Linked DNA regions of Homo sapiens: region 1 is linked to region 2. Evidence: fine-mapped expression QTL. A gene starts in region 2. The other region holds a variant in brackets. All regions are shown on one strand. Distances are from middle to middle. Region 1 has its middle 25 kb from the start of TNPO3. Region 2 holds the start of TNPO3 (transportin 3).

The links.
Region 1: its variant is fine-mapped to the expression of TNPO3 in whole blood (INTERVAL, PIP 0.98).

The regions. Positions count from the first base shown.
Region 1 is chr7:129,072,027-129,087,881 of GRCh38, forward strand. No RefSeq gene overlaps it. Among named protein-coding and RNA genes, the nearest start is that of TNPO3, 25 kb to the left of the region's middle. RefSeq lists an enhancer at 710-819. The variant C/A (reference allele first, on the strand shown) is at 6,635.
Region 2 is chr7:129,047,050-129,062,904 of GRCh38, forward strand. TNPO3 (transportin 3) reads right to left here and starts at 8,062. Exons shown (of 23, transcript NM_012470.4): 1 at 7,602-8,062. The coding sequence starts at 7,721. It overlaps LOC124901836 (small nucleolar RNA U13), which reads left to right and starts at 14,482; the gene lies at 14,482-14,585. It also overlaps the pseudogene TPI1P2. RefSeq lists enhancers at 7,595-8,094, 8,906-9,200, 14,143-14,312 and a silencer at 8,906-9,200.

The DNA.
Region 1 (15,855 bases), 25 kb after region 2:
GGTTGCAGTGAACTGAGATTACGCTGCTGCGCTCCAGCCTGGGTGACAGAGCGAGACACTGTCTCAAGGAAAAAAAGAAAGAAAGAAAGAAAGAAAAAAAAACCCCACAGTCTGCTGAGTCCCACTGCTAGAGTTTCTGAGTCACGAGGCCTGGGGTGTGGCCCAAGGATCTGCTTTTCTAAGGAATTCCCAGGTGGTACCGACACTACAGGTTAGGGGCTTGACTAATGGTGAGGACCCCTGCTCTGGGCCAGAGGGCTGAACCAGAGAGCTTAGTTCAGCATCCTCCCCAGAGTCCCCACCCAGCCTGTGAGCATCCAGCAGGCCCAGTCCCTGTCTTTGGGTTACATGAGTCTGTATCTTTCTAACAAATTCTCCCTTTTTTCCCCTAAACAGCTTAATTGTGATATAATTCACACACCATACTTAATTGTGATATAATTCACACACCATACAATTCACCCACTTAAAGTATTACAACTCAGTGGTTTCTAGTATATTCACAGAAATGTGCAACCATCACCACAGTCCATTTAAAAAGGAAGGAAATGTTGACACATGCAACAATACGGATGAACCGAGGACATTATACTAGTGAAATAAACCAGTCGGAAAAAGACAAATATTATTTGGTTCCACTCATAGGAGGTAACTAGAATAGTCAGATTCACAAAAACAAAGTAGAATGGCAGTTGCCAGGGGCCGAGGGGAGGGGAAAATGGAGAGTTGATTTGTACAGAGTTTCAGTTTTGCAAGATGAGGGAGTTCTGAGGACTGGCTGCACAGCGATGTTGTAACCACATTACACCAATCTGGTTCAACTTCTATGTAGCAAAGTTGTGAGTTGTTTTTCAGTGGTCATGGCCCTGCAGGTTGGAGGGGGCAATGCCCGGATGAACATCGTGTGCAACCATGAATGGGAACTAAGTGCTCGGACCAAGGAACCAGGCTGAATTAAGAAGCAAACACCAGGCTGGGCGCTGGTGGTGTACGCCAGTAACCCCAGCACTCTGGGAGACCGAGGCAGAAGGATTACTTGAGCCCAGGAGTTCGAGACCAGCCTGGGCAACATGGTGAGATCCCATCTCTAAAATAAAAAATAAAAATAAAAATAAAAGCAGACACCATGGCAGGACCCATGATCCAATCAGATTGAGCTCTGGGGTGACCCTATGGCAGGATCTAGTCAGATCACTCCTCATTACCCTATGCTAATTAAAATCCAACCCAGCCTCCAGCTCCAGGAGACAGATTTGAACATTTCTTCCTGTCTCTTTGTCTGTCAACTCACAAACCTTTCTCACTGCAAAAACTGTGTGTTTTGGTGTTTGGCTTTCTGTTGCATGCTGGCAAATGGACCCAGTTTTGGTTTGCTGACAATGCGAATATACTTAACACTGAACTGTACATTTAGAAATTGTGAAGATAGTGAATTTTATATTATACCTTTTTTTATTTTGCCACAATAAAAAGTAATTTTCTCTGTCTTTTTTTTTTTAAAGACATATGGCCTCTGTCACCCAGGCTGGAGTGCAGTGGTGTAGTCATAGCTCACAGCAGCCTTGAACACCTGGGCTGAAGCCATCCTCCCACCTCAGCTTGCCAAGTAGCTGGGATTACAGGCATGAGCCACTGTGCCTGGCAAAAGTTATTTAAAAACTTTTTTAATGTCTTTTAAAAGGAGACTTTCTGATGTGGTCAAAGGAAGCAGTTGGTATCCAGATTCAGCTGAACTTAATACACTTCCTTGGTTTAATTTATGGAAATATTTATATAGTTCCCATTTAATTATCCTCCAAGGACATGTCTGCTCAGAGGATCATCCTAGTTCTCTGGCCAACAATAAACAGGAACTGAGACAGAGTGATGGACGATATGACTCTTAGTGTTTCTGTCATGGCACATTGGCCTTTATGGGTCATTGCCCATGTGTTCCAGGATTTAGGATGAATTTTAATATGTCACTCTGCGTGGGCTACGGATTGGGTTTTATTAGGGAAAGTGAAATCTTACAAGGCTGGGTCAACAAGCAAAGGGGAAGCAGGAGTCTCCCATTCTATTCTCCGTCCCATAGAGAAGTATGTGAAGGTCAGGGTCTCAGCTGGATCTGCAGGATAGGTCCATGTTCTGCTGTATTAGTTAGGGAATAAATGTAAGAAACCAGTCTGTGAGTAGGGAACACATGAGTGGTTTGGGTGCTGGGCAGCTTGGATGTAGGGTGCCAGGGGTTCAGAGGAGATGGGAGGAATTCCTGCTTCCCAGTATTTGGAGACCTTGGGCCTGTGGGAAGGTGCAGTCACCCTGTGTGAGGAGGGAGTCTGCCCATGCTGTGGAGGCTGAGCTCCTTCCACCAGGAATAGGCTTACTTGCAGTTCCAGCTGGCTGGCCCAGGTAACCTTGAATGAGCTTCCAGAGCAGCTTCCAGGCAATTCTGCTCATTTCACCACAGTTTCTGAATTCAAAAATAAATAAAAAACACATTTGTCCTATTTGGTGTTCTTTGTTTTCTATGACTCTGCTGCTTTCCTCTTGAAGAATCACTAATTTGCCTACTATAACTGCCTATGTGTGGTCTCCTTTTCAAAAGGCAGCTCTAGGATTGCTTGAGCCTGGGAGGTCCAGGCTGCAGTGAGCTGTGATTGCGCCACTGCACTCCAGCCTGGATAACAGAGCAAGACCCTGTGTCAATAAATAAATAGTTAAGTAAAAAGCAGTTCTTATGAGGGATATGAACAGGCTCCTAAAGAAACACAAAAGACTAATAGATACATGAAAAGATGTTAAGCCTCACCAGTAGTCAATGAAAATGCAAGTAAAGAGCAAAATGGCAGCACTTTTCAATTATATTGGAAACAGTTTGCATATTGAAAAAGATTTGTCTATGTTATCAAGGTTGTGCGGGAAAGGGTGTCATCTTGGAGTGCTGAGGGGAATTCTAGCAATCTATGCCAAAATTTTGAATATCTGTAACCTCTGACCCTCAAAACTACATTCCTAGGAATTTATTCCAACTAGGTAATCTGACAAGTGAGCAATGATAGATGTACAAGATTATTTGACAATGTATTGCCCACATAAGTGAAAAATGGAAACACTATGTACACCTATGGACAGGTAGTTAAATTCTGAAACATCCACAGAGTGAAATACTATGCAGTCATGACAAAGAATGATGCATACTACCATATGCCACCAATTCTAAAATGATTATTTTATGCTTTTTCACAGTTGTTACATTCCATGGCATATCGCAGTTTATTTGGCAGCATTTTTTTCTTTCTTAATGGCACCTAAACTTATAGGGCATTTAACAGGTGATAGCATATTATGTTTCATGAAATATTGTATATTTGCTGACATACGGCTGAGTGGAAAATGGCCTCTCTAACCATATGTAATGTGGTTCCAGTTACATGCAAATTTTAAGATATGTTTATATTGGCAGGGTGTGGTGGCTCACACCTGTAATTCCAGCACTTTGGGAATCTGAGGTGGGTGGATCGCGAGGTCAGGAGTTCGAGACCAGCCTGGCCAATATGGTGAAACCCCATCTCTATTAAAAAATACAAAAATTAGCCAGGCGTGGTGGCATGTGCCTAGAGTCCCAGCTACTCGGGAGGCTGAGGCAGGAGAATCGCTTGAACCCGGGAGGCAGAGGTTGCAGTGAGCTGAGATCATGCGACTGCACTGCAGCCTGGGTGACAGAGTGAGACTCTGTCTCAAAAAAAAAAAAAAAAGATATTTTTATATTTATACATGCATGCACATACCAGAAGTTAGCAGAGACCCCACCCCCACTCCTTCACTGCCTCATTTCTTGGGATTCCCGGCAGAGTTTACACAGATTCCCTGCTAAGGCCACAGGCTGTCGAAATCCAAAACTATCCTTGTAGATTTCTGCCAGCCCCAGTGCTCCTTTTCCCATGGTCTCCCCTCCTGCCATCAGAGCTGCTTGCAAGGAATCCCACGTAGAACTCCCTATCATGTAGATGGAGCAACTCAGAGCATTCATGAGGTATTTCTGGAAATGCTTGGTGACCATTTGGAGGTGGCAGGGAATGGTCACATGGGCAGGTCACAGCTTTTCTGTTCCTATTAGCTTCCTCTTTCCTTCTTTCACCCCTTTCTGGAAGGAGTAAAAGAATCTCTTCTCTTCATCTTGTGTGTAGAATTCAGGATGGAAGCCTGGCTTAAGGGATATTTCCTCCTTTTTGGCACAGTCTCCGAAAATGTCAACGTTTCAAAGTGTTTGAAGGCAATACATTGACACAATGGTTGTTGAGACTATGAGAAAGAATATTTGAGAAAGCAGTGTGTCTTAGTCCATTTGGGCTACGATACCATAGACTGGGTGGCTGATACACAACAGAAATTGATTTCTTACAGTTCTAGAAGCTGGGAAGTCCAAGATCAAGACACAGGCAGATGCAGTGTCTGGTGAGGGCCCATTTCTTGGTTCATAGATTGCAGCGTCTTGCTGTGTCTTCACATGGTGGAAGTGGCCGTGAGGTTCTCTGGGGCCTCTTTTATAAAGTTACTAATTTTATTGATTAAGTCTCTGCCCTCATGACCTCATCTCTTAAAACTCCCACTTGCTCATGTCATCATATTGGAGATGAGGTTTCAATGTATCACTTTTGGGGGCACACAAACATTCAAACCATAGCACAGTGTGAAAGTAACACAGTGAGAAAGCTAGAGAAGTTTTCAAAAACTGGTGTGTTTTTAGGTGCCTGCCAGCTACCACCCCCAAACAGTGCAGGGAGGCTGTTTCCTTTCTTGGGTGTTCTACTGACCACTAATTTTTACCTCTAACCCAAACGTTTATTAAAATATTTTCTTCCAGTTTTCATCAAACTTGAACTGTTGCTCTGTAAAAGACAATTTTAAAAGAATTAAATAATAAACTACAGATGAGGCATAATATTGCAAATCACATACATGGCAAAGAATTTGCATCTGGAATATATAAAGAACTCCCAAAATTCAGTCATAAGAAATGGACAAACAACCCAATTTAAAAATGGGCAAAAAACTTGAACAGACAATTCACCAAAGAAAATATATAGAAGACAAATAAGTACATGAGAAGATGTTCAACATCATTAGCCATTAGGGAAATACAAATTAAGATATCACTACACACTTAATAGAATAATAAAAATAAAAAATAACAGGCCAGGAATGGCAACTCACGTCTGTAATCCCAGCACTTTTGGAGGCTGAGGTGGGCAGATCACTTGAGGCCACGAGTTCAAGACCAACCTGGCCAACATGGTGAAACTCCATCTCTACTAAAAATACAAAAATTAGCTGGGCCTGGTGGTGCACACCTGTAATCCCAGCTACTCAGGTGGCTGACGCACAAGAATTGCTTGAGGCTGGGCGCGGTGGCTCACACCTGTAATCCCAGCACTTTGGGAGGCCAAGGCAGGCAGATCACAAGGTCAGGAGATGGAGACCATCCTGGCTAACGCTGTGAAACCCCGACTCTACTAAAAATACAAAAAGCTTAGCTGGGTGTGGTGGCGGGTGCCTGTAGTCCCAGCTACTCAGGAGGCTGAGGCAGGAGAATGGCGTGACCCCGGAAGGCGGAGCTTGCAGTGAGCCGAGATGGAGCCACTGTACTCTAGCCTAGGCGACAGAGCGAGACTCCTCGCTCGAACGCTTGAACCTGGGAAGTGGAGGTTGCAGTGAGCCAAGATTGAGCCACTGCACTCCAGCCAGGGCAACAGGGCAAGACTCTGTCTCAAAAGAAAAAAAAAAGATATTAGGAATAAATAGTGCTGACGAGAATGTGAAACAACTTCAACTCATACATTTCCGGTAGGAATGGAAAATGGTACAGCCTCTTGGAAAACAGTTTGGCATCTTATAAAGTTAACCATATACCTACCACATGACCCAGCAACCCCACGCTTACGTATTTACAGAAATGAAGACATAGGTGCACACAAAATTCTGCATGTGAATGTTTATAGCAGCGCTATTCATAATTGCCCCCAACTAGAAATTATCCAGATGTTCTTCAGTGGCTGAAACTATAAAGAAACTTTTTATTTTTTTTTTGAGATGGAATCTCACTCTGTCGCCCAGGTTGGAGTGCAGTGGCGCTATCTCTGCTCACTGCAAGCTGTGCCTCCCTGGTTCAAGCGATTCTCCTGCCTCAGGCTCCCGATGAGCTGGGATTACAGGCACCCGCCACCACGCCCGGCTAATTTTTATATTTTTAGTAGAGATGGGGTTTCACCATGTGGGTCAGGCTGGTCTCAAACTCCTGACCTTATAATCTGCCCACCTCGGCCTCTCAAAGTGCTGGGATTGCAGGTGTGAGCCACCGCACCCGGCCAAGAAACTTTTTGCACTGGTACATTCATACAATGAGATACCAGTCAACAATGGAAAGAAACAAATTATGACACTGGTAACAACTGGGATGATCCTCAGAGGCATTACACTGAGTGTGAGAAGCCAGTCTCAAGACTTACATATTGACTAGGTGCAGTGGCTGACACCTGTAATCCCAGCACTTTGGGAGATCAAGGCAGGAGGATCACTTGAGACCAGGAGTTTGAACCAGCCTGGGCAACATAGTGGGATCCCATCCCTACAAAATATGCAAAAATTAGCCATA[C/A]GTGGTGGCACATACCTGTAGTCCCAACCACTCTAGAGGCTAAGGTGAGAGGATCACTTGAGATCAGGAAGTCAAAGCTGCAGTGAGCTATGTTTGTGCCAATGCACCTCCAGCTTGGGCAACAGAGCAAGATCCTGTCTCAAAAAAAAAAAAAAGTTACACATTGTATGATTTTATTATATGACATTCTCGAAAAGACAAAACTATAGTGTTGAAGGACATATTAATGATTTCTAGGGATATGGAATTGAGGGGAGGATATAATTACAGAAAGATAGCATAAAGCCAAGCACGGTGGCTCATGCCTATAATCCTAGCACTTTTGGAGGCCAAGATGGGAGGATTGATTGAGCCCAGGAGTTCGAGACAAGCCTGGGCAACATGAGACCCTGTCTCTGCAAAAACCTTAAAAAATTAGCTGTGTGTGGTGGTGTGCACCTGTAGTCCTAGCTACTTGGAAGACTGAAGCGGGAGGATCACTTGAGCCCAGGGAGGTCAAGGCTGTAGTGAACCATGATTATGCCACTCCAGCCTGGGTGACAGAATGAGACCTTGTCTCAAAAGAAGATAGCCTAAGAGAGTTTAGAGGGGTGATGAAGCCATTCTGTATGCTGATTGTGGAGGTGGTTAAAAGAATCTGCATGTGTTAAAACTTGTAGTACTTTTAAAAAAGGGTCAATATTGCTGTATGTTAATTTCTTTGTTAATTTTTTAAATTTTAATTTTTTTATTTTACTTTTTGGACACAGGGTCTTGCTTTGTCACCTAAGCTGGAGTCCAGGGGCATGTGATCACAGCTCACTGGCAGCCTTGACCTCCTGGGCTCGAGCAATCCTCTCACCTCAATTCCCTGAGTAGCTGGGACTATGGGCATGCACCACCATGCCCAGCTAATTTTTGTATTTTTAGTAGATACAGGGTTTCACCATGTTGGCCAGGCTGGTCTCAAACTCCTGACCTCAAGCGATCTGCCTGCCTCAGCCTCTCAAGTGCTGGGATGACAGGCATGAGCCATCACCCCCAGCCTTCTTTGTTAATTTTTTAATAGAAATAGGATCTTGCTATGTTGCCCAGGGTGGTCTCAAACTCCTGGCCTCAAGTAATCCTCCCAAATCCTTGGCCTCCCAAAGCGCTGGAATTACAAGTGTGAGTCACCTCGCCTGTTCTGTGTGTTAATTTATAAGGCAAAAATTTTAAAACTTCATCCAAAGGAATACAGAGCTAAGCAAAGAATTCTCAAAAAAGAAACACAAGATGGTGGTCACAAGTTTCCTCTGGGGAAGGATGCTGTAAATCAAGGAAAGTAGAAAGACATACTTTTACAGGATTATACACTTTTTACTATTTGAATCATTTATCATGCATGCATGTTACCTTTCCCTCCTGCAAAAAAAAAAAAAATTATATTGAAACACAAGAGGAACACAAGCCTTCCCCTCTTACATTCTGATGATTACAATTTTCCCCCTCTAATTACATTTGTACACTTCTATAAATGAGGCCAGCTAGGGAGAGCACCAAAATGTGCAGTGATCGGCCGGGCGCAGTGGCTCATGCCTGTAATCCCAGTACTTTGGGAGGCTGAGGCAGGCGGATCACCTGAGGTCAGGAGTTTGAGACCAGTCCGGCCAACATCATGAAACCCTGTCTCTACTAAAAATACAAAGATTAGCTAGGCGTGGTGGTGCAAGCCTGTAGTCCCAGATACTAGGGAGGCTGAGGCTGGAGAATTGCTTAAACCTGGGAAGCAGAGGTTGCAGCGAGCCGAGATGGTGCCTTTGCACTCCAGCCTGGATGACAAGAGCAAAACTCTGTCTCAAACAAACAAACAAAATGTGCAGTGATTACCTCTGAGCAATGGATTTGAAGGAGTTTTGTTTTGTTTGAAACAGGGTCTCACTCTGTCACCCAGGTTGGAGTGGAGCGGCACGATCACAGATCACTGCAGCCTCCACCTCCCTAGCTCAGGTGATACACCCACCTCAGCATCCCAAGTAGCTGGAACTACAGGCAAGCACCACCTGTAGCCAAGGCCAATTTTTGTATTTTTTGTAGAAGCAGGGTCTCAGTATGTTAATTTATAAGACAAATATTATGTTGCCCAGGCTGGTCTGGAACTCCTGGTCTCAAGCAATTCTCCTGCCTCGGCCTCCCAAAGTGCTGGGATTACAGGTGTGAGTCATTGTGCCCGGCCTTAAGGAGATTTTTACTTTCTTCTTATACTTTTCTATTTTTCTCTACCAGCATATATGATATTTATGTTTTTAAAAGCTATTTTCATTGTGGAAAAAAAAGAGAACATATTAGGGGGAAAACCACAAGCTCACAGAGGACAAAAACCATGTTTTAGTGCCTCTGGGTACTGTAAACTATCTGACATGGTACAGGTGCTGAGTATTCTACCAACTAAGACATTTTGCTTGAAAGTTATAGACAAGGTCCATCCTGGCTAACACGGTGAAACCTCGTCTCTACTAAAAAATACAAAAAAATTAGCCGGGCATGGTGGCGGGTGCCTGTAGTCCCAGCTACTTGGGATGCTGAGGCAGGAGAATGGCGTGAACCCGGGAGGCGGAGCTTGCGGTGAGCAGAGATCGCGCCACTGCACTCCAGCCTGGGCGACAGAGCGAGAATCCGTCTCAAAAAAAAAAAAAAAAAAAAAAAGTTGTAAACAAGGTGTAATTATAATGGATATTGATCGTATTTCTTTATATTAAACTCTGAATACCACAGGTGTTCACAGAATAATAATCTACTTTAGAAAGGAGTTTTACCATTTGCATTAAAAGCTTTAAGGCGAGCAAGACAGCTATGAGTTTGCTCCACTTTACAAATGAATGAGGAAACTGAGGTTTAAAGGTAGTTACTGGCAATAACAGAATTTAGACCAGTTTCTTGATACCAAACCTAATATATATTCCAAGACACTCCCACTGTCTCTTCCCAGTTCTCAAAGAACTATAATAAAATGAAAATAGCTAACTCTGACACTGTTTTCAACATATTCTTCGAACCAGCAGAGAGCTGATTGATGTCATCTAAGGGAAGTGGTTTGGAGCTGGAAAAGTCTCCTTCAGGGCAATCACCTTTTTTTTTTTTTTTTTTTTTTTTGAGATGGAGTCTGCTCTGTCGCCAGGCTGGAGTGCAGTGGCGTGATCTTGGCTCACTGCAATCTCCGCCTCCCAGGTTCAAGCGATTCCCCTGCCTCAGCCTCCCGAGTAGCTGGTACTACAGGTGCGTACCACCATACCCAGCTAATTTTTTATATTTTTAGTAGAGATGGGGTTCCACCATGTTGGCCAGGATGGTCTAGATTTCCTGACCTCGTGATCCACCCACCTCGGCCTCCCAAAGTGCTGGGATTACAGGCGTGAGCCACTGCGCCTGGCCAGGCAATCACACTTTTCAGGATCAGAACTTCCACCCTGAAGGACCACAGGTTCACCCCTGGCAATACACAGCGAGGACCAGACTCTGAGAACAGACTCACATTGGAAAAGGGACATAGGAGGCTGAGGGAGACGCCGGGCTGCCAATTCACTCATTGACCATGATAATTGGGACTGTTACAGGGTCAGCTACTTCTCCCCTACAAGTCTCTCTCTGCAGCATATTCTCTCTGGTCGGTAGGTCGCCATGAAAATGAGAAAGTTGACTGCCAAGTGGCCATGGAAAACACATGGAAATTAGACGAAGCCCCAGGGTTCAGTGGTAACAGGTGAGGCTAAGATAGCCTAGGCCAGTCATCCTATAATAGAGGTGGTCTCACCAACAGGTTACTTACTGCAGAGTACTCACATCCCATTGGTTACAACCTCCTGCCTCCACATCTCCATTATAAGTTGTTTTGTCATTTAAAGGCTGTGATTTCCTTTGTGCCCAATACATGGATGGGCAATGCCTATGTCCACCTCCCAGAAGTGTCCTCTTCCAAGAATCCATGCTAAACAATGCCCCTTCTAACAAACAGATTTTTTTCAATCTTTTAATTTAAACAATCAAATCCTAGGAGCCAGGCTTTTTTGTCACATGCTAATTATATATTGATCTTATTATTAACTTTCTATGATTAGGACGGGCACGGTGGCTCACGCCTGTAATCCTAGCACTTTGGAAGGCCAAGACAGACCGATCACTTGAGGTCAGGAGTTCGAGACCAGCCTGAACAACATGGTGAAACCCTGTCTCTACTAAAAATACAAAAATTAGCCTGGCATGGTGGTGCACGCCTGTAGTCCCAGCTACTCGGGAGGCTGAGGCACAAGAAACACTTGAACCTGGCAGGTGGAGGTTTCAGTGAGCCAAGATCGAGCCACTGCACTCCAGGCTAGGTGACACAGCGAGACTCCATCTAAAAAAAAAAAAAAAAAAATGATTGCTAATTGCCCTCTGATGTAATAATTCCCCTTCCTCTTCTTTTTTTTTTTTTTTTTTTTTGAGACGGAGTCTCACTCTGTTGCCCAGGCTGGAGTGCAGTGGCGCAATCTCAGCTCACTGCAACCTCCACCTCCAGGGTTCAAGCGATTCTCCTGTCTCAGCCTCCCAAGTAGCTGGGACTACAGGCCTGCACCACCACACCCAGCTAACCTTTTTTGTATTTTAATAGAGACGGGGTTTCATCATGTTGGCCAGGATGGTCTCATGACCTCGTGATCCACCCACCTTGGCCTCCCAAAGTGCTGGGATTATAGGCATGAGCTACCTCGTCCAGCCGGTGTTTTAGGTTTTTTCTGTTATTATCAAACTGAATTCTAACTAATATTCATGATAATTTTATTCCTCTTACTTTTAAGTTCTTGTGGTCCCAAAGTACAATAGTAAATTTAAGATTCTAGGCTGGATGTGGTGGCTCACACCTGTAATCTTAGCACTTTGGGAGGCCAAGGTGGGAGGGTCACTTGAGCCCAGGAGTTTGAGACCAGCCTGGGCAACATAGCAAGACTTCATTTCTATTAAAAAAAAGAAAAAAGAAAGATTCTGGAATGCTTCAGACTCCGTGTTATACAAGCTTTCTGACAGTGTGATGAATCAGGGAGGAGTGAGTTAACAAATTTCTGACCAGACAACTGACCGGAAAAAACAGCTTGTGGAGTGCTCAGTATATCATTTCATTCCTCAGGTTCACGTAACAAATGTTCAGAAGCTCAGAGCATATTTCATTCCCATGCGATTAATCTTACCCCCTGCACTACTTTTGTATCTCCCCTTAGTAACAGGTTCACCCTACCTTCAATGTCTACAGGAGCTACGGAAAGAAATGCAGAACGAAGATAAATCACCCACCAGAATTGTTAGCAAGAGAAGTGCTGGCAGCAATAGGTCCTCTTACAAAGAAGAAACTTAGAATGAAGCTTTTCCCAAACAGCCTGAAAGGTTCTTTTATCCTCCATAAGTAGCTGCTCACCCAATTTTTGACAAATCCTCATTTTTGCTTCAAAAATAAATAGCAAACACTTACCTATATTTACCATATGCCAGGAACTGATCTAATCATCTTACATATATTATTATTATTGAACAGCAATTTAAATTAGGTTTTTTTTTAAAGGTGGTTATTTTTATTTTTTGCAATGCCATGGTTGTAGGAGTGTATGAAGAGGTAACACATCTCCTTTTCCTTGACTATGCTTTTTTTTTTTTTAACCTTCTGCACAAAGGTAAAGGTTTTTGTTAATCTCATAGTTAATGGTATAAAACAGAGGTCATGCCGGGCGCGGTGGCTCACGCCTGTAACCCCAGCACTTTGGGAAGCCTAGGTGGGTGGATCATGAGGTCAGGAGTTCAAGACCAGCCTGGCCAAGATGGTGAAAGCCCGTCTGTACTAAAAACTACAAAAAAAATTAGCTGGGTGCGGTGGCAGGTGCCTGTAATCCCAGCTACTCGGGAGGCTGAGGCAGGAGAATTGCTTGAACCTGGGCAGCAGAGGTTGCGGTGAGCCGAGATCACGCCATTGCACTCCAGCCTGGGCAACGAGAGTGAAACTCCGTCTCAAAATAAATAAATAAATAAATAAATAAATAAATTTTAAGGGATATGGTTTGGAGGGAGCTTTCAGGGTAAAAGTATAGTGACATGACAAAGGGGAGGTGACAGAATATTGTAGAGTCCTTTGTATTCTTTCAAAATAGCTTTACTGAGATATAATTGACATACAGTAAACTACATGTTTATAGTGTAATTGGATAAGATTTGACATACATATACACCCGTGAAACCATGACCACAGTCAAGATAATGAAAATAGGCCAGGCACGGTGGTTCACAGGAATCACTTGAACCCGGCAGGTGGAGGTTGCGGTGAGCTGAGATCATGCCACCGCACTCCAGCCTGGGCGATAGAGTGAGAGGCTGTCAAAAAAAAAAAAAAGATAATAAAAATAAATATCAGCCCCCAAAAGTTTCCTTGTGTCCTCCTGTGATCCCTTCTTCCTGGAAACTTCCCCCAAACTCTCTCCTCAACCCCCCATTGTCCCTTATCTGCTTTCTGTAATTATGGATTGGTTTATATTTTCTAGAATTTTATAGGAATACAATCGTACAATATTTATTCTTTTATTTCCAGTTAACATAGCTTTTATTCAAAAGTCCTTACTCTTGTCTGGTTTATTTCACTTGGTCTAATTATTTTAAGATCTATCCACATTACTGCATGTACTTTAAGTGGGTGAGTCGTACGCTATTTGAATTATCTCTCAATAAAGCTGTTACTAAAAACAAACCACAATGAGATATCACTGCGCACCCATTCGGATGACAAAAATTTAAAAAACAGACAAAAGCAACTGTTAGTGAGGGTAGGGAGAAATTGGAACTCTCATACCCTGCTAGTGAGTGGACTTGTATAATGATGCAGCCACTTTGGAAAACAGTCTGGCAGTTTCTCAAACATTTAAACATAGAGGTATCTTTTGACCCCAAAATTTCACTCCTAAGTGTATATACCCAAGAGAAATGAGAAAATGTGTCTACACAAAAGCCAGTATATGAATGTTCATAGCAGCATTATTCCTTATTTATTATTATACATTTTTTTGAGGTGGAGTCTTGCTCTGTCGCCAGGCTGGAGTTCAGTGGCGTGATCTTGGCTCACTGCAGCCTCCGCCTCCTGGGTTCAAGTGATTCCCCTGCCTTAGCCTCCCAAGTAGCTGGGATTATAGGCATGCGCCACCACGCCTGGCTAATTTTTTGTATTTTTAGTATAGATGGGGTTTCACCATGTTGGCCAGGATGGTCTCCATCTCCTGACCTCGTGATCCGCCCACCTCGGCCTCCCAAAGTGCTGGGATTACAGGCGTAAGCCACTGCGCCCAGCCTATTATTATTATTTTTTGAGACGGAGTCTCGCTCTGTCACCCAGGCTGGAATGCAGTGGCGCGATCTCGGCTCACTGCAACCTCTGCCTCCTGGGTTCAAGTGATTCTCCTGCCTCAGCCTCCAGAGTAGCTAGGATTACAGGTGCCCACCACCACACCCAGCTAATTTTTGTATTTTGTTTAGTAGAGACAGGGTTTTACCATGTTGGCCAGGCTGGTCTCAAACTTCTGACCTCAAATGATCTGCCTGCCTTGGCCTCCCAGAGTGCTGGGATTACAGATGTGAGGCACGGCAGCTGGCCAATGGCAGCATTATTTATAATAGTCAACATGTGAAAAGAACTCCAATGTCCACCAACTGAGGAATGGATAAACAAAATGTGGTCTATCCATACAGTGAAATATTATTCAGCCATAAAAGGGAATGAAGCACTGATACGCGCCACAACACAGATTAACCTTGAAAACATTCAGCTAAGTGAAAGAAGCCAAACACACACATACCAACCCCACATATTGTATGATTCCATTTTTATTTATTTTTATTTTTATTTTTTATTTTTTCAGACAGGGTGTCACTGTCACCCAGGTTGGAGTGCAGTGGCACAATCTCAGCTCACTGCAACCTCCACCTCCCGGGTTCAAGCAATTTTTCTGCCTCAGCCTCCCAAGGAGTTGGGATCACAGGCATGCGCCACCACACCCAGCTAATTTTTGTATTTTTAGTGGAGATGGGGTTTCGCCATGTTGGCCAGGCTGGGCTTGAACTCCTGGCCTCAAGTGATCCGCCCACTTTGGCCTCCCAAAGTGCTGGGATTATAGGTGTGAGCCACCATGCCCAGCCTGATTCCATTTTTATGTGAAATGTCCAGAATTGGCAAATAGAGACAGAAAGTAGATTAGTGGTTGCCCAGGTCAGAGTGAGGGTGGCTGGGGGCAATGAAGGTGACTGCTAAAGGGTACAGAATTTCTTTGTGGGGTAATACAAATATTCTCAAATTGATTGTGATGGTGTTTGCACAACCCGTACATATACTAAAAACTACAAAATTACATATTTAAAATGGCTAATTTTTACCTATGTGAATTATATCTCAATAAAGCTGTTACTGAAAAAATGTTCACTTACTGAGGTCATTCCATTATATGAATATACTTCAGTTTGTCTAGCCATTCATTTATTGAGTCATTGGATTGGCTCCTATTTTTGGCTACTAAAAATAAAGCTGCAGACCAGTGAAGTACTCACACCTGTAATCCCAGCACTTTGGGAGGCCAAGATGGGAAGATGGCTTGAGGCCAGAAATTCGAGACCAGCCTGGGCAATATAGCAAGACCCCATCTCTACAAAAAATTTAAAAATTAGCCCAGCATGGTGGCTTGCACCTGTAATCCCAGCTACACAGGAGGCTGAGGTGGGAAGATCACTTAAGCCCAGGATTTTGAGGCTGCAGTGAGCTACGATCATGCCACTGTACTCCAACCTGAGCAACAGAGCGAGACACTATCTCTAAAAAAAATAAAATTCGGCCGGGCGCGGTGGCTCACGCCTGTAATCCCAGCACTTTGGGAGGCCGAGGCGGGCGGATCACAAGGTCAGGAGATCGAGACCATCCCGGCTAAAACGGTGAAACCCCGTCTCTACTAAAAATACAAAAAATTAGCCGGGCGTAGTGGCGGGCGCCTGTAGTCCCAGCTACTTGGGAGGCTGAGGCAGGAGAATGGCGTGAACCCGGGAGGCGGAGCTTGCAGTGAGCCGAGATCCCGCCACTGCACTCCAGCCTGGGCGACAGAGCGAGACTCCGTCTCAAAAAATAAAAATAAAAATAAAAAATAATAATAAAAATAAAAAATAAAATTCAGGCCAGGTGCGGTGGCTCACGCCTATAATCCCAGCACTTTGGGAGG
Region 2 (15,855 bases):
TAAACCAAACATGACAATGCCAACTTAGTCTATCAAAGCATGACTTTACTTCATCTGCTTTGTGCTTTTGATGCTTTCCATCAAAAAGCTGCATACACCCATGCTGAAGCATGCCTATTCAGTTTCCATACTGAACTATAAAACTTTTGAGGTAATATCTAACCCAAAGATTGTCTCTGTAAAAGTTATCTCCTACTTACAACTTAAATTAAAAACTTATAACTGAGTCGCTTAAGTAATTGGCCCTATGAAGAGATGGTCTTTCCTTCAATAGCTCTCTACAACTTCTACTAATTTTGGTTAGTAGGGGTGGACAAATGAAACTACTAAATATACAGGACAGGCTACTAAGATTCCTTTAAGATCTGCCTCAAAATACTCTCTTTCAGAACACTTTGAAGTTATCAGTGATATCTATCTATCACATAAAACAACCATGGCTGTACATCTCCAAAAATTTTGGTGGAAGTTTAGAGCAATGAATACAGATTCTTCAGAAAATGGCTGTTTTATACAAATATTAGAGAAAGAGAAAAGATGCTAACTCACAGTACAGGCTAAAGCATATTCAAATTATACCTCTATACCACGTCTACTGTCACCAGGTCATTCGAACTATACTCAATTACTCTCGGATTAGTTAGGTGGGGTGGTAGAGAAGAATAAGGATAATAGTTTCACAAATACATATTCTTGAAAGTAGTTTTTTAGCAAACCACACAAATTCTATGCCTTACCAATTTCAAATGGATGTTAAAACACTATAGTTATTACTACAGTTAAAACACGCTTTTGTTCCAGTAGACAAAATCTTCCGGAAAGAAAAAAACCACCACACACATTACTTTTGGTTACAAATGCCATTTAGTGACCACTTAAAGAGAGCCTTGGCCAGGCACAGTGACTCATGTCTGTAATCCTAGCACTTTGGGAGTCTGAGGTGAGAGAAGTGCTTGAGCCCAGGGGCTTGAGACCAGCCTGGGCAACATGGCAAGACCCTGACTCTACAAAAAATACAAAACATTAGCCAGGTATGGTGGTGCATGCCTGTAGTCCCAGCTGTCCAAGAGGCTGAGGTGGGAAGATCACCTGAACCCAGGCTCAGGTGAGCAAGGCTGCAGTGAGCAGTAATCACACCTCTGCGCTCCACAGCCTGGGTAACAGAGTGAGACCCTGTCTCAAAAAACTAAATAAATAGACCAGGTGCAGTGGCTCACACCTCTAATCCCAGCACTTTGGGAGGCCAAGGCGGCCAGATCACTTAAGGCCAGGAGTTTGAGACAAACCTGGCCAACATGGCAAAACCCCAATCTCTACTAAAAATACAAAAATTAGCCGGGCATGGTGGCATGTGCCTGTAGTCCCAGCTACTTGGGAGGCTGAGGCAAGAGAATTGCTTGAACCCAGGAGGCGGAGGTTGCAGTGAGCCAAGATGGTGCCACTGCACTCCGGCCTGGGCAACAGAGTGAGACTCTGTCTCAAAAAATAAATAAACAAAGAGAGCCTTATTGAGTCAAAAAGTTCCTCTCCCTTTCTGTACCTGAATATTTGCAAGTATGAAATGAGGGCAACATATACATCTCATAAAGGATTTAAAAAAAAAAAAGAAAGAAAAAAAAAGACTGGAAAGACTGAAGAGCATTAAAGGTGCTGAATATTGTTTATTTTTAACCATGTATATGGTGAAAAGTGACAGCAAAAATAAATAAAACTCGCAGATAAAGAAAAATGTGAGTTATCCAACTGAGTATCTGCATGTATGCACTTCTGACAATCAACATTTTTAAGAACCTGTGTGTGAAGTGTCTTGATTGTTTATCTTAATAACCATGGTTTATTTCTTCAACTATGGGTATTGGACTACATAAACAAATGTGACAAGAATCCCAGTCTAGTAGGGGAGGCAAAACACTTATTTTCAAAAAGGTTTATAAAAAGGCAAACACAATGAAGTAAAGTTCTCTAGGCATTCATTGGGGGCTGAAATCACTTTTGGCTGAAGAGAAGCAGGTAAGCCTTGAAGGAGAAAGCAGAATTTAGGTTGGGCTTTCAAAAGATGAGTTAGTTTCTGCATTTGAAGAAAGGGTTGGGAAAGGGTAAAAGCAGAGAAGAAAGTAAAGTTGGGCAAAGGCGGCATCCACTCTACCCCAAAATATTTGTGTACTATGAGAAATATTTCAGCTATTTGGATGCTGATGGGAAAGACTCAGTAAAGGAGTCTAAAGATGCAGACAAGACATAGGATAAACCAAAAGATCAAGGTCCCAGAAATTTCAGAAGATTGAGAGATGCAAAGCACCTAGATCTGACAAGAGGAGAAGCAGCTGCATACAACCATGCTGAAGTCTGACCAAATTGGAGGGGAAAGGTGATGGTGTATTTATAAAATGACTAGAATGATAGATCTTGGAATCCACATTTGGTAAGGAGAGAAGTAAAAACAAGAAGACCTAATAAAGAAGAAGTAAGGAACAGTCAATGAACTGAGGTTTTGATAAAATTCAAGAACTAATGCAGGGACTTCTGTTTAAAATGACTAAACTAACTGATTGAACACAGCTGTCTGCTTTCAGGTCCTTCCAAAAATCCAATAAAAATCAGAGTAAAGATCTTTTTTAAAAAAGGCAAAAACACATAAAGACAAAGAAAATGGAAACAGGTGACAGATATCAATAGAACTGTGGAAACTGGAAAGCTAAAGGACAGTGTTAACTGTCTTAGCAGATCCGAAAAGGCTGATATTTGCCTGGGGGTGGGGAGGGAGGATGAGACGAGAATAGGGAAGGCAAGGGACAAACTATTCATGTTGCAAAACCCAGGAAGACTGGGGAATTGGAAGCACAGGTACATCTGAAGGCAGATGCACAGGCGGAACAAAAAATAAAGGAGTGGAGCTGGATGTGGTGGTGTGCACCTGTAATTTCAGCTACTCAGGAGACTGAGGAGAGAGGATTGCCTGAGACCAAGAGTTCGGGTCCAACCTGGGCAATATAGCGAGACCCCAACTTTTCTTTTCTTTTTTTTCTTTTTTTAAAAAGGGTGAGGTGGGGTGGGCTGGGCGCAGTCACTCATGCCTGTAATCCCAGCACTTTGGGAGGCCAAGGTGGGCAGATCACAAGGTCAGGAGACCGAGACCATCCTGGCTAACATGGTGAAACCTTGTCTCTACTAAAAAATACAAAAAATTAGCTGGGCATGGTGGCAAGCACCTGTAGTCCCAGCTACTCTGGAGGCTGAGGCAGGAGAATGGCGTGAACCCGGGAGGCGGAGCTTGCAGTGAGCTGAGATGGCGCCACTGCACTCCAGCCTGGGAGACAGCGAGACTCTGTCTCAAAAAAAAAAAAAAAAAAAAGGGTGGGGGGGGAATCGGCTAGTAATGCAGCCTTAAAACAAAAAAAGAAAAAAGTTTAAATAAATAAAAGGGTCAAAATCTGTGTAAGAAGCAGTAGACTCCTAAATTTCCTCTCTGACTCTGAGCAACCAGGCTACTACTCTCCCACCATAACAGAAGACTCAAGGTTTACTGTGGAAAGATTGAAGTAGGTGGTCTCTGGACTCTTAGACAACAGACTCAGCTAAAGACAGGAGTATCATGCTGAAAAACAAGAGATTAAATTAAAACCTACATACTTAGTTGTGAGATCCATCCCCTGGCTTCATTCCCTGAACTGGCTTTAGAACACTGGCAGTCTAGCTTATAACCCCCAGGCTGACTAGAGAACTCAAGGTAAAAGCAGCCCAAGAAAAACAGACCAACAGAAAAGCAATGAGAGAAAGGATGAAGGTTCCCTTCTCGATGATCCATTAAATGGAAGAGTAACCCAAGAAAACATCATGGAATCCAAGAATCAGTGGATCCAGCACAACAAAGAGGCAAAGGGAATTCCCTAGGACAGTGTTTATGGAATCCCATGACAGTAATTATCCAACAGACCTAGCGAACCAGGCCAGACTGGAGCAGGGAAATGGAGGGCTCTTGGGATACATATTTCCTTTAGCCAAAAAAGAAAACAAATCACCAGTCTGAACAATGAGGATATTTACAGTACTGAGATTTGAGGGTGACTTATTGTGGATACCCAGAAAACAAAATGTTAAAAAAAAAAAGAGGTATTTGATTACCAACAGGAAAAAAAAGGTTCCACAAAATTTTGTTTTAAAAATAAAACTTAAATATTAGTAAAACTACATAAAGATTTCAAAAAAAACTAGGTGACATTATTTGATATTTTTGAGCCAGCAAACTGGAAAACAGTGGGTTATGATCACAGCAGAATGTCTGAATCAGTGATTTGGAGGTGTGGTGACTTTTTTTTTTTTTTTGTACAATCTTGCTGTTTCCCAGGCTAGAGTGCAGTAGCGAAATCATAGCTCACTCAGTCTTGAACTCCTGGGCTCAAGGGATCCTCCTGAGTAGCTGGGACTATAGGCAAATGTCACCACACCCAACTAATTTTCCTATTTTTTTGTAGAAATGAGGTCTCGCTATGTTGCCCAGGCTGGTCTTGAACTCCTGGGCTCAAGGGATCCTCCACCTTGGACTCCCAAAGTGCTGGGATTACAGGCAAGAGCCAATGGGCCTGGCCTGGCTGGCAACTTTTTTGTTTTTTTTGAAATGGAGTCGCGCTCTGTCGCCCAGGCTGGAGTGCAGTGACACAATATCAGCTCACTGCAACCTCCACCTCCTGGGTTCAAGAGATTCTCCTGCCTCAGCCTCCTGAGTAGCAGAGACTACAGGTGCGCACCACCACGCCCAGCTAATTTTTGTATTTTTAGTAGAAACGGGTTTTCACCATGTTGGCCAGGCTGGTCTCAAACCCCTGACCTCAAGCGATCCGCCCGCCTCAGCCTCCCAAAGTGTTGGGATTACAGGCGTGAGCCACTGCACGCCCAGCCTGGGTGGTGGCTTTTTAGTAAAGACAAGATCCAGGGTGTGATTGTGTGACCAGGTGGCTAAAGAGAATGAAGAGGTAAAGGAATCAGAAGGCCAAAGTGTTAGCTGAACTGTCAATCCAGATGCTGAAGTTGCCTAAACGTGATGTGTTACTGCTGGATATTTTCCAGATCCACTTTTCCACCCTCCTCTATCATGTTTTCTGCTCCAATAGGCTGACCTGTATAGACTTTACCAACAGGTCACTGTGCCCCTGGCTTCCGGTTGGGTTTGGCCAATGGGGAATCCCAGCAAGAAATTAAGAGAACAGGGTCAGGATATTCATTCCTCCAGCTTCATTCTCTCAAGGTCACCTGAAACTAGCTATGTCCCTTCGGCTGAAAGTCACCATTCCTCTCAAGGCAGCCAACTCCATACTTTTCAAGTAACTATTCCCTCTTTTATGGGATGTTAACCGTTCAGCTATAGGTTACCAAACTATTTCTTGTCACACCACTATACCTAAATCTTTATAATAGTATCTTTATAAAATAAACTCAGATTATCCTGTCAAGTGTGCCATCTGTTCCTGTCTGGACTCTGACTATTAACTGTGATGGTGAAGATGATGTAAGGTTGTAATAGAGTATTGGAAAGTAAGGAGAGAAAAGTGACTAATACTTAAATAACAATTGCTAACATTTTAATCTCTATGTTCCAAGAACTTTTCTAACCTCTTCGTAGAATATTAACTCATTTAATCACAACTACCTTCTGTGGTAAGCAGAGATTTTTGTCTGGTTCATTTCCAAATCCAAACACCCAGCATAGTTGCTGGCACATGGTAAGCACTCAAATATTGATTTAAAATACACACAACAAGCAGGTTTAATTAGAAAGAGATTACTTTTTTAGTATAGTGTAGCACTTCTCCTAATTACACTTTAGAAAACTATACAAAGATCAGGGAATTGTTGACTCTCCAGAGATCACAGAAACACTAAATGAGACCATATGTGAATGATTTTCTTGTGTAGCCTACAGTGAGTCGTATTCCTTTATTTTCTGAAGAGGACTTGGGTGCCAGTTTTTTAGGTTTAATATTCAAAGTCAAAGTTGCAGCGGGGGGCGATGGCTCACATCTATAATCCCAGCACTTTGGGAGGCCGAGGCGGGCGGATCACCTGAGGTCGGAGTTAGAGACCAGCCTGGCCAACATGGCGAAACCCCGTTTCTACTAAAAAATACAAAAATTAGCTGGGTGTGGTGGCGTGTGCCTGTAATCCCAGCTACTCAGGAGGCTGAGACAGGAGAATCACTTGAACCTGGGAGGAGGAGGTTGCAGTGTGCCGAGATAGCACCACTGCACTCCTCCAGCCTGGGCAACAGAGCCAGACTCTGTCTCAAGAAAAAAAAAAAAAAATTAGTCGGGTGTCAGGGCAGGCACCTGTAATCCCAGCTACTCGGGAGGCTGAGGCAGGAGAATCTCTTGAACCCGGGAGGAGGAGGTTGCAGTGAGCTGAGATGGGACCACTGCACTCCAGCCTGGGCGACAAAGCGAGACTCTGTCTCAAAAAAAAAAAAAAAAAAAAGGCAAAGTTGCTCCATACCAAGACCAGATTTTTAAAAAGTCAAAGTTGCAAATTTTTAAATATTATGCACTTGCAGCCTAGGAGCTGATTTAATAAGGCAGAGCACCTTTAAGTATCAGTTATGAGTTAAAATAAAGGGAAGGGGGCCAAAAAAAATATGGTTGTGAGTATAAAATGCAAAAATAAAGGTAAAGGTGAGTATTTTGTCAGCCTGTAAAAAAAGCCTCTTTAGTTTTCAAAGTACTTAATTTTTAAAGTACATCCTACATTAGAACCTAAGTCAGCCAGATAACCAAGAATACACATTTACACAGAAATGAAGCACAGCAAAGGTGTGAAAATTAGGGCAGGAAGCATAAAACATGAATCAAAGAATGCAGAAATACAACAGATATAAGCTACAATTAAATATCTCACCGGATGCACACACAGTTTTATATGGAATAATCAAAGCAGCAGTGATACCCATCTTATAAATAAAAATCTAAAAGCCAGAGAAATAACAAGGTTAGAGGATTAATATGAAACAAAATGAGAACTCCAAAGATTTTCTGAAAGCAGAATTACTGTTTTTTCTTCATATTATGTTGCCACTCCAAAGCAAGGGGAAAACTCGCATGAGTAAGAATCTAGAAACCTGAGAAGTTTCGAGAAGAACAGACTCAAACTGGAGTGAAAATAGGCAAAAAGAGTGAGGCATAAGGCTACGACTGGGAGCAAAATGCCAGATGCAAGTCTTGGACACGGAGGGGAGACGAATAAAGCCTTCTTAAGCGGAAGGTGGAGAAACACTGGGGTTGGATTTGGTGGGAGGAAGACAAAACGGAAAAGCACGGCCCAAGAAGCAACGGCAAAGGGAGAACTTAAACAAGATTAGATTGATGCCACAATCGAAGAGTATAAGACCTACAAATCAGATTCTGCCGGGTGGGGAAAGGGCCAGTTCGCGACCGATCAGGTGCGACTAGTTTCCCAAAAGCGGCAAAGATGTAGCTTCGCAGCCCCACCCCACGACAGCAGCTCCTCCCCAAGGAGGACCTCACGAGGTCAACTGCCGGGCTCAGGTTCTCCCCCGGAGCCTAGGTTCCACCCCGCCCCGGCCGTGCGGCACAGAACTGCCTCTCTGGGCCCCTCACCGAACGCTGCAGCTCCCCAAGCCAAAAAGAGGCGCGCTCCTTTCCGCTGGGATCTGGGTCGTGGTAAAGCGCCTGCACTGCCTGGTACACGAGCTGCAATGTCGGCTTTGCTCCTTCCATGGTGGTGGCGGTAGTGGCGGTAGCGACGGCTCTGATTCTTCTCCGGAGGATTCCTCGGTTGCTCCGCCTTCGCGCTTCCTCACTGTCTGGGCCACGGCCGCTCCCTGACTGGCGCCATCTCCTCCTCTTTGGCCGTTACCAGGGCAGAAGGCTCTCCGTGGAAGTTGCCCCCTCGGAAACAGCTATTAGGTCGTATTCAGGTTCCTGGCCTTTTTTCCGGTTTTTCCACTTGATTCTAGACTCTTGAGTCCACAGATTCTGGCGCTCCCGTCTTCAGTCGCTGACTTGCCCTCAGAAGCCTATCTTGGGAGGCCACACACCAGTGTACCTAAGGTTCGTTTACCCGGACCGGAAGCGACAGCACCGATACCTTTGGCACACTTCCGCCTGGTACACTACAAACGGCCTCCTTCCCGGCACGCCTCCTCTTGTCTCCCCGCCCCCTCCCGGAAGTAACCCTGCCGGGCCAGGAGCCGGGAAGAAGAGCCGGTGTTCTCTCTGTTCCTCGCTAGCAGCTTGGGACATTAGCGCCGAGATGTGCCCCATATCTGAGCTGCCTTCAGCTCCTTGGAAACGGATCCAGGTTTTTCCTACCCCTTCCGACTGCCCCATCCCTCTCCAGAGAATCCTTTTCTGCCCTGGTGATCAAGGCGCGTCAATTCAACTCTCCCTAGAGTGGCCACAGTACTGGAGATCCAAAGATGACTTAAGACATGGTACCTACGCTGGCTCTAGTGGAGGAGACAGACACGTAGTCAACTGAACTATTTTACAAACCTGAAATATGTGCCACATTGAGATAAATCCAAAATGCCTAGAATCTTTGTTCAGCTCCCCTTTACTTAGTTCTTAAGCCCAAAAGAGGTCTTCATTCTGCTTACAGCTCCTGGTGCTCTAACTCCAGAGCATTTTGCATACATCTTTAGGGTTATTCTCACATTGAACTGTATTTTTGTGAATGCCTTTCTGTCCGAATCCAATACCAGTGGTCTAACAATTCACAAAAGAAAACAGAAATATTGGAAACTGTACTATGGAGAAATTAGGGACAAAAGGTAACAGTATATTGATATTAACATTGCTGCTAGTCCTTTGCACTAGTAAATAACTGCTATTTGATAAATGATCACAATGTGTAAAACACTGTAGTTACAAGATCTCATTTAATCCGCCTAACAACCTTGCCAAGTATTAATAAAACCCGTTTTAGGCGCTGACACTGACCTACAGCGCCTCAGCTCCAGCGCCATGGCGCCCTCCAGGAAGTTCTTCGTGGGGAGGAACTGGAAGATGAACGGGCGGAAGAAATGTCTGGGGGAGCTCATCGGCACTCAGAACGCGGCCACTGTGCCTGCCGACACCAAGGTGATTTGTGCTCTCGCCACTGCGTATAACGAGTTGGCCCGGCAGAAGCTAGCTCCCAAGATTGCTGTGGCTCCGCAGAACTGCTACAAAGTGACTAATGGGGCCTTTACTGGGGAGATCAGCCCTGGCATGGTCAAAGACTTAGGAGTCACGTGGGTGGTGTGGTCCTGGGGCACTCAGAAGGCGTGTCTTTGGGGAGTCAGATGAGCTGATTGGGCAGAAAAGTGGCCCATGCTCTGGCAGAGAGACTCGGAGTAATCGCCTGCATTGGGGAGAAGCTAGATGAAAGGGAAGCTGGCATCACTGAGAAGGTTGTTTTTGAGCAGACAAAGGTCATCGCAGATAATGTGAAGGACTGGAGCAAGGTCATCTTGGCCTATGATCCCGTGTGGGCCACTGGTACTGGCAAGACTGCAACACCCCAACAGGCCCAGGAGGTACACAAGAAGCTCCGAGGATGGCTTAAGTCCAACATCTCTGATGCAGTGGCTCAGAGCACTGGTATCATTTATGGAGGCTCTGTGACCAAGGCAACCTGCAAGGAGCTGGCCAGCCAGCCTGACGTGGCTGCCTTCCTCATGAGTGGTGTTTCCCTCAAGCCCGAATTCGTAGACATCATCAATGCCAAACAATGAGCCCCATCCGTCTTCCCTACCCTTCCTGCCAACCCAGGAACTAAGCAGCCCAGAAGCTGAGTGACTGCCCCTCCCCTGCACATGCTTCTGATGGTGTCATCTGCACCCTATTGTGGCCTCATCCAAACTGTATCTTCCTTTACTATGTATACCTTCACCGTGTAATGGTCGGGACCAGACCAATCCCTTCTCCACTTACTGTAATTGTTGGAACTAAATGTCACCAATGTGGCTTCTCCTTGGCTGAGAGGTGAAAGGGATGGAATTTGCTCCTGGGTCCCCTAGGCCCTAGTGAGGGGAGGAGAGAGAACCCATCCTCTCCCTTCTTACACTGTGAGGCCAAGCAGAAGCCAGGGGTGCTGCCCTCTCCCACGGTGCCAACGCCTTTGTGTGTTGTGTATGTGAGCCATCCCACATGTGAGGGAAATAAACCCCTGGCACTTAAAAAACAAACAAAAAAACGCATTTTAAAGAAAGAAAAATAGTAATGTAATTTGCCCAAGGATACAGTTCTTAAAGTTAGGATTTGAATCCAGATCAGTGTTGCTCCAAAACCTGTTAAATCACACAATCCCTATCATCTTGTGCATTCGTTTGCTTCTGAATTGTTAGTCAAGGAATTTTTAACTGCCAACAACATGATGAAAACAATGTTACTGCACAGAGTTGATACAATTTTAGACAGAAAAAAGAAACTTGATATTTTGGTTACCTAATCCATTCATTCATTAAAAAAAAATTTAGTGCTGGGCTTGGTGGCTCACAACTGTGTAATCCCGGCATTTTGGGAGGCCGAGGCAAGAGGATTACCTTTGAGGCCAGGAGTTCAAGACCATCCTGGGTAATGAAATGAGACTCCATCTCTACAAAAAAAAATGCAAAAAAATTAGCAGGGCATGGTGGTGGGTGCTTCTAATCCCAGCTACTCAGGAGGCTGAGGTGGGAGTATTGCTTTAGCCCAGGAGGTGGGGGTTGCAGTGAGCAGAGATTGTGCCACTGCACTCCAGCCTGGGAAACAGTGAGACCATATCTCAAAACAAATTTTTTTGTGTGTATCAAAGGACACTATCAAGAAAGTGAAGTAACAGTCCACAACATGGAAGGGAATGTGCAAATAACATATCTGATAACTGATTAGTATCCAGAGTATATAAAGAACTCTTACAATTCAACAATGAAAAGACAACTCAGTTTTTGGGTTTGTTTTGTGTGTGTGTGTGTGTGTGTGTGTGTTTTGTTTTTTTGTTTTGAGTTGGAGTCTTGCTCTGTTGCCCAGGCTAGAGTACAATGGCACAATCTCAGCTCACTGAAACCTCCACCTCCTGGGTTCAAGCGATTCTTGTACCTCATCCTCCCACGTAGTTGGGATTACAGGTGCCCACAACCATGCCTGGCTGATTTTTGTATTTTTAGTAGAAACAGGGCTTCACCACGTTGGCCAGGTTGGTCTCGAACTCCTGACCTCAAGTGATCCACCCGCCTCAGCCTTTCAAAGTGCTGGAATTACAGGCGTAAGCCACCATGTCTGGCCTCAGATAATTCAGTTTTTTAAATGGGCAGTGAATTTGAATAGACATTTCTTCCAAGAAGATATACAAATGCACATGAAAAGATGCTCATCATTAGCCCTCAGGGAAATACAAATCAAAACTGCAATGAGATACAACTTCACACCCACTAGAAAAACTAAAATTTAAAAAATGATAAATGCTGGTGAGAATGTGGACAAATCAGAACTCTCATGCACTATTCATGGGATTGTATCATGGTGCGGCCATGTTGAAAAAGTTTGGCAGCTCTTCAAAAAAATGTTAAACATAGAATTATCATATGAACCAGCAGTTCTACACTTAGGTATATACTCAAGAGAAATGATAACGTGTGTGCATACAAGCACTTGCACGTGCATATTCATAGCAGCATTATTCATAATAGACGGCAGAAACAGCCCCAATATCCGTCATTTGATGCATGGATAAACAAAGTGTGCTATATCCATACAATGAAAGGTTATTTGACCCTTAAAAGGAATGAAGTACAGATAGATGCTACAATATAGATAAACTTGAAAAATTATGCTAAGTGAAAGTGGCCAGACACAAAAGGCACATTAATTACGCGATTCTATTTACATAAAATGTTCAGAGTAGGCAAAATTCTAAATATAGACAGTAGATTGGTCATTTCCAGGGTTGGTTTTTTGTTTTGGGTTTTGTTTTTTTTTGTATTGATGGAAATAAATGCTCTGGAATTATTGACGATGTTCAGAAAAACCTCATGAATATATTAAAAACCACTGGCATATGTTTTTTATATGTTTTAAAAGGATGAGTTTTATGGCAATGTGAACTATATTTCAATAAAACTTATTTTTAAAAGTTCTATGGTTAGGAATTATTAAAACACCACATGGATATTTAGCTAACAGTTGGAGAAAAAAGAAAAAAAAATAGAGGTGATACCTAACCCAGAGTAGAGAGATTGGTAACACCATCTGGAGAAATTATGTCTAAACTGAGACCAGACTGATAGATAAATAGGAAGCAATTAGGCAAAGGGTTTAGTATTGTAGGCAGAGGCAACAGTATGAAAGCCTGGAGGCAAGGGAAAAAATTACCTTCTGAAGACTGAAAGTAGCTGAAGGATAGAGTTGACATTGGGTAGGAGTAAGAAATGAAGCTAAACAGTGTTTAACCCATCTTTGTGACCTCATGCCATTACCTGATACATAGTGGGTGCTTAGCAAATGTCTTAAGTGACATGTTTCTTTGTTCCTTAGTCTTAAAAAAAAAAAAAGTCTAGTTTGACATGAAATGGCTTGGGCAGGGAAGGTGGCTAGAACAGAAATAAGAAAAGATTGTAATAATCGTGGTGAGGAGTGATGGTAGCCTGGAGTAAAGTGTTGGCGGTGGGCATGGAGATAGAGAGGTATTTAGGAACTTCAGAGGAAGAATCTTGATATGGTGATTACTTAAGCTGCAAGGTGTGACAAGAGGGAAGAAAACCCAGGCTTTTGAGATATGGAACCTAAAGGAAGAAATGGCTTTTATGGAAACAGAAAGGGATATGAGGATGAAGATAAGTTTAATCTTAGCCATGTTGAATATTGAGGCACTTAACAGACAGCCAAGACCAGCAGGCTGTAGCATGTGTGGGACTGAAGCCCAGGGGGTGGGTTGAAAATCCAGATTTGCGAGTTGTCAGTTTCTAGTTGGTGGCTAAAGACAAAGGAGTGATTGAGACGCGCATCTTTAAGCACCAAATAAATGCACCAGAGATGTCGAATATTGTTAGAAAATACATTTGAAATAAAATATTAGAAATATATAAAATATTTAAAATATCAAAACCCCATAACTTTTGTCATTAGGCACAATGGTAACCCTAGGAAAACTGGACTCTAATGCAAAGTTTCATGAGACCAAACCCACCCCCAACAAAAAGAGCCCTGACTCCTTCCTTCTGCAAGCAAGCTAAATATGGATTCTCTGAAGGAAAGAAGGAAAGAGATAATGAGTGTTTCTTTTACTGACTTGGGGTGAGATTATCCAAAGATTGAGGGCTGTACCTCAAGCACTCCAGTTCTCTACAGGCAATGCCATGAAGCCTTCCATAAAAGCTTTGATCTGGCCAGGCGAGGTGGCTCACACCTGTAATCCCAACACTTTGGGAGGCTGAGGTGAGTGGATCACCTGAGGTCCGGAGTTTGAGACCAGCCTGGCCAACATGGCGAAATCCCGTCTCTACTAAAAATGCAAAAATTAGCCAGGCGTGGTGGCATGTGCCCATAATCCCAGCTACTCAGGAGGCTGAGGCAGGAGAGTCACTTGAACCCGGGAGGCGGAGGTTGCAGTGAGCCAAGATCGTGCCACTGAGCTCCAGCCTGGGCAACAGAGCAAGATTCTGTACCCCCGACCCCCCGCCAAAAAAAAGCTTTGATCTGCCATGAGAAGGCACCCATGATTTGTGGTGAACCTCAGGTTACAATAATAAGCGTAGGTTGTGGCCCCACAGAGGCCTCCTTAATTCTCTTGTAGCCTCTTGACACCCACCCCACCCCACATCATCCTCCAACCTCAGGGTAAAGTGAGCCACTGCACTTTGGGGAGAAGTTGCAAAGGCAGTGTGTCAGAGGCCAGTGGTTTTACTCTAATACCCATTGTTTTCTTTCCTAGAGTTCTTTGAAGAAATATTCTTTTTTTCTCAAGCTAATTCAAATTAAGTTTCTGTCACTTCCACCAAGAATTCTGAAGTCCAACTTCATCAAAATCTTAGCTCGACTTACCATAACAAAATACCAGCTTGAAGAAGGGAAATTTATTTTCTTACAGTTTTGGACGCTGGAAGTTCGAGATCAGGGTACCAGCCTGATCAGGTTCTGGAGAGGGCCCTCTTCCTGGCTTGCAGATCACCACTTTCTTGCTCCTCTTCTTGTAAGGCCACAGTCCTCTTGGATTAGGGCTCTACCTTATACCTCATGTGACCTTAATTACCTCCTAAAGACACTATGTCTGGATACAGTCACATTGGGGGCTAGGGTGTCAACATATGAATTTTGGGGGGACACAACTCAGTCCATAACATCTGTCATTATGCCCACTGGCCTTGGAGAGTTAGTAGAAGGCCCTCATCCTTGCCCGAAAGAATACGATAACATCAGACTTCTTTGGTACACAGATTATAGTAAAAGTTCAGGCAAAGCCATGCTGACTGCACTAGGGACAGGGATATGTTATGCTTCACTGAAAGACAATACCTTGATTCTTTTGTAGCTGATAAGCATGATGACTGGAGTTTCACGTGCATGTGTGAGATATACCTCCCTCCAACCTTGTTACCACATCTGCACATTACCTGCCTGATGTGAACAAAAGAAAAGAAAGATTTTTTTTTTTAAAGACCATGCCTTTGAATTGGATTTCACAGCTCCCTGCTAGGAAAACAAGCAGTCACAATTTTCTCTGGTAGTAACGGGACACTTACAGGATAAAAAGATGTATGCATAAGAATGTTCATCCTAGTGTGGTTTCCCCTAATGAAAAAGTAGAAATATCCTCAATGTCCATCAATAGGCATCTTGATGTCCATCAAGAACTTTAGGATATATGCATGCTTTGGATACTAGACAGCCACTGAAAATCAAGCAGAAATGACTCTCATTAATTTTGTTACATATGGTAATGATATTGGGGCTATATAGGAAAATGTCCTTACTTATTTAGAGGTACAGACAGTCCCCGACATGATTTTTTGACTTTATAGTGGTGCAAAACAGCTACTTGTGGGGGCTGAGGCAGAAGAATCACTTAAGCCAGGGAGGTTGAGACTACAGTGAGCCGAGATCACACCACTGCACTTCAGCCTGGGTGACAGAGTGAGACCCCGTCTCTAAAAAAAAGAAAGAAAGAAAGGAAAAGAAAAACAAAAATCATAAATTGAAAATGCACTTTTTATGTGTGAGATAGGGTCTCACTCTGTCACACAGGCTGGAGTAAAGGAGCGCAATCTCAGCTCACTTCAGCCTCGACCTCCCACGCTCAAGTGATTCTCCTGCCTCAGCCCCTCAAGTGGCGGGGACCACAGGCCTGCACCACCACACCCGGCTAATTTCTTTTTACTTTTGGTAGAGAGGTTTCACCATGTCGCCCAGGCTGGTCTCAAACTCCTGAGCTCAAGCAATCCACCCGCTTTGGCCTCCCAACATGCTGGGATTACAGGTGTGAGCCACTGTACCCGGTCTGCACTTTTGACTTACAATAACTTCAATGTACTATGGTTTTGCATATACTAAAATACTTAGGCACAATGTAGTATAATAAAGAATATATCAAGTCTTCATCCCCCATTCCTGGCACAGTGCTTCAAATGCTCTTGAAATTTTCCAAGTGATGGCAATGCCTTTGTTACAGTAATGAAGTGACTCTGTGCAGACCCCTAGATATCTTCAGGATGAGGTTTGGTGACCAGAAAGACCAACCATGTGTTTAGAAGGTTGGGACTCTGGGCCCCTTGGAACTCTGGTAGGAACTCTAGGAGAGAGAGGAGCTTAAGATGAGTTCAATCATGTGGTCAATTGTTTAATCAATCATGCCTACACTTTGAAACCCCAGCAAAAACTCTGAACACCAAAGTTC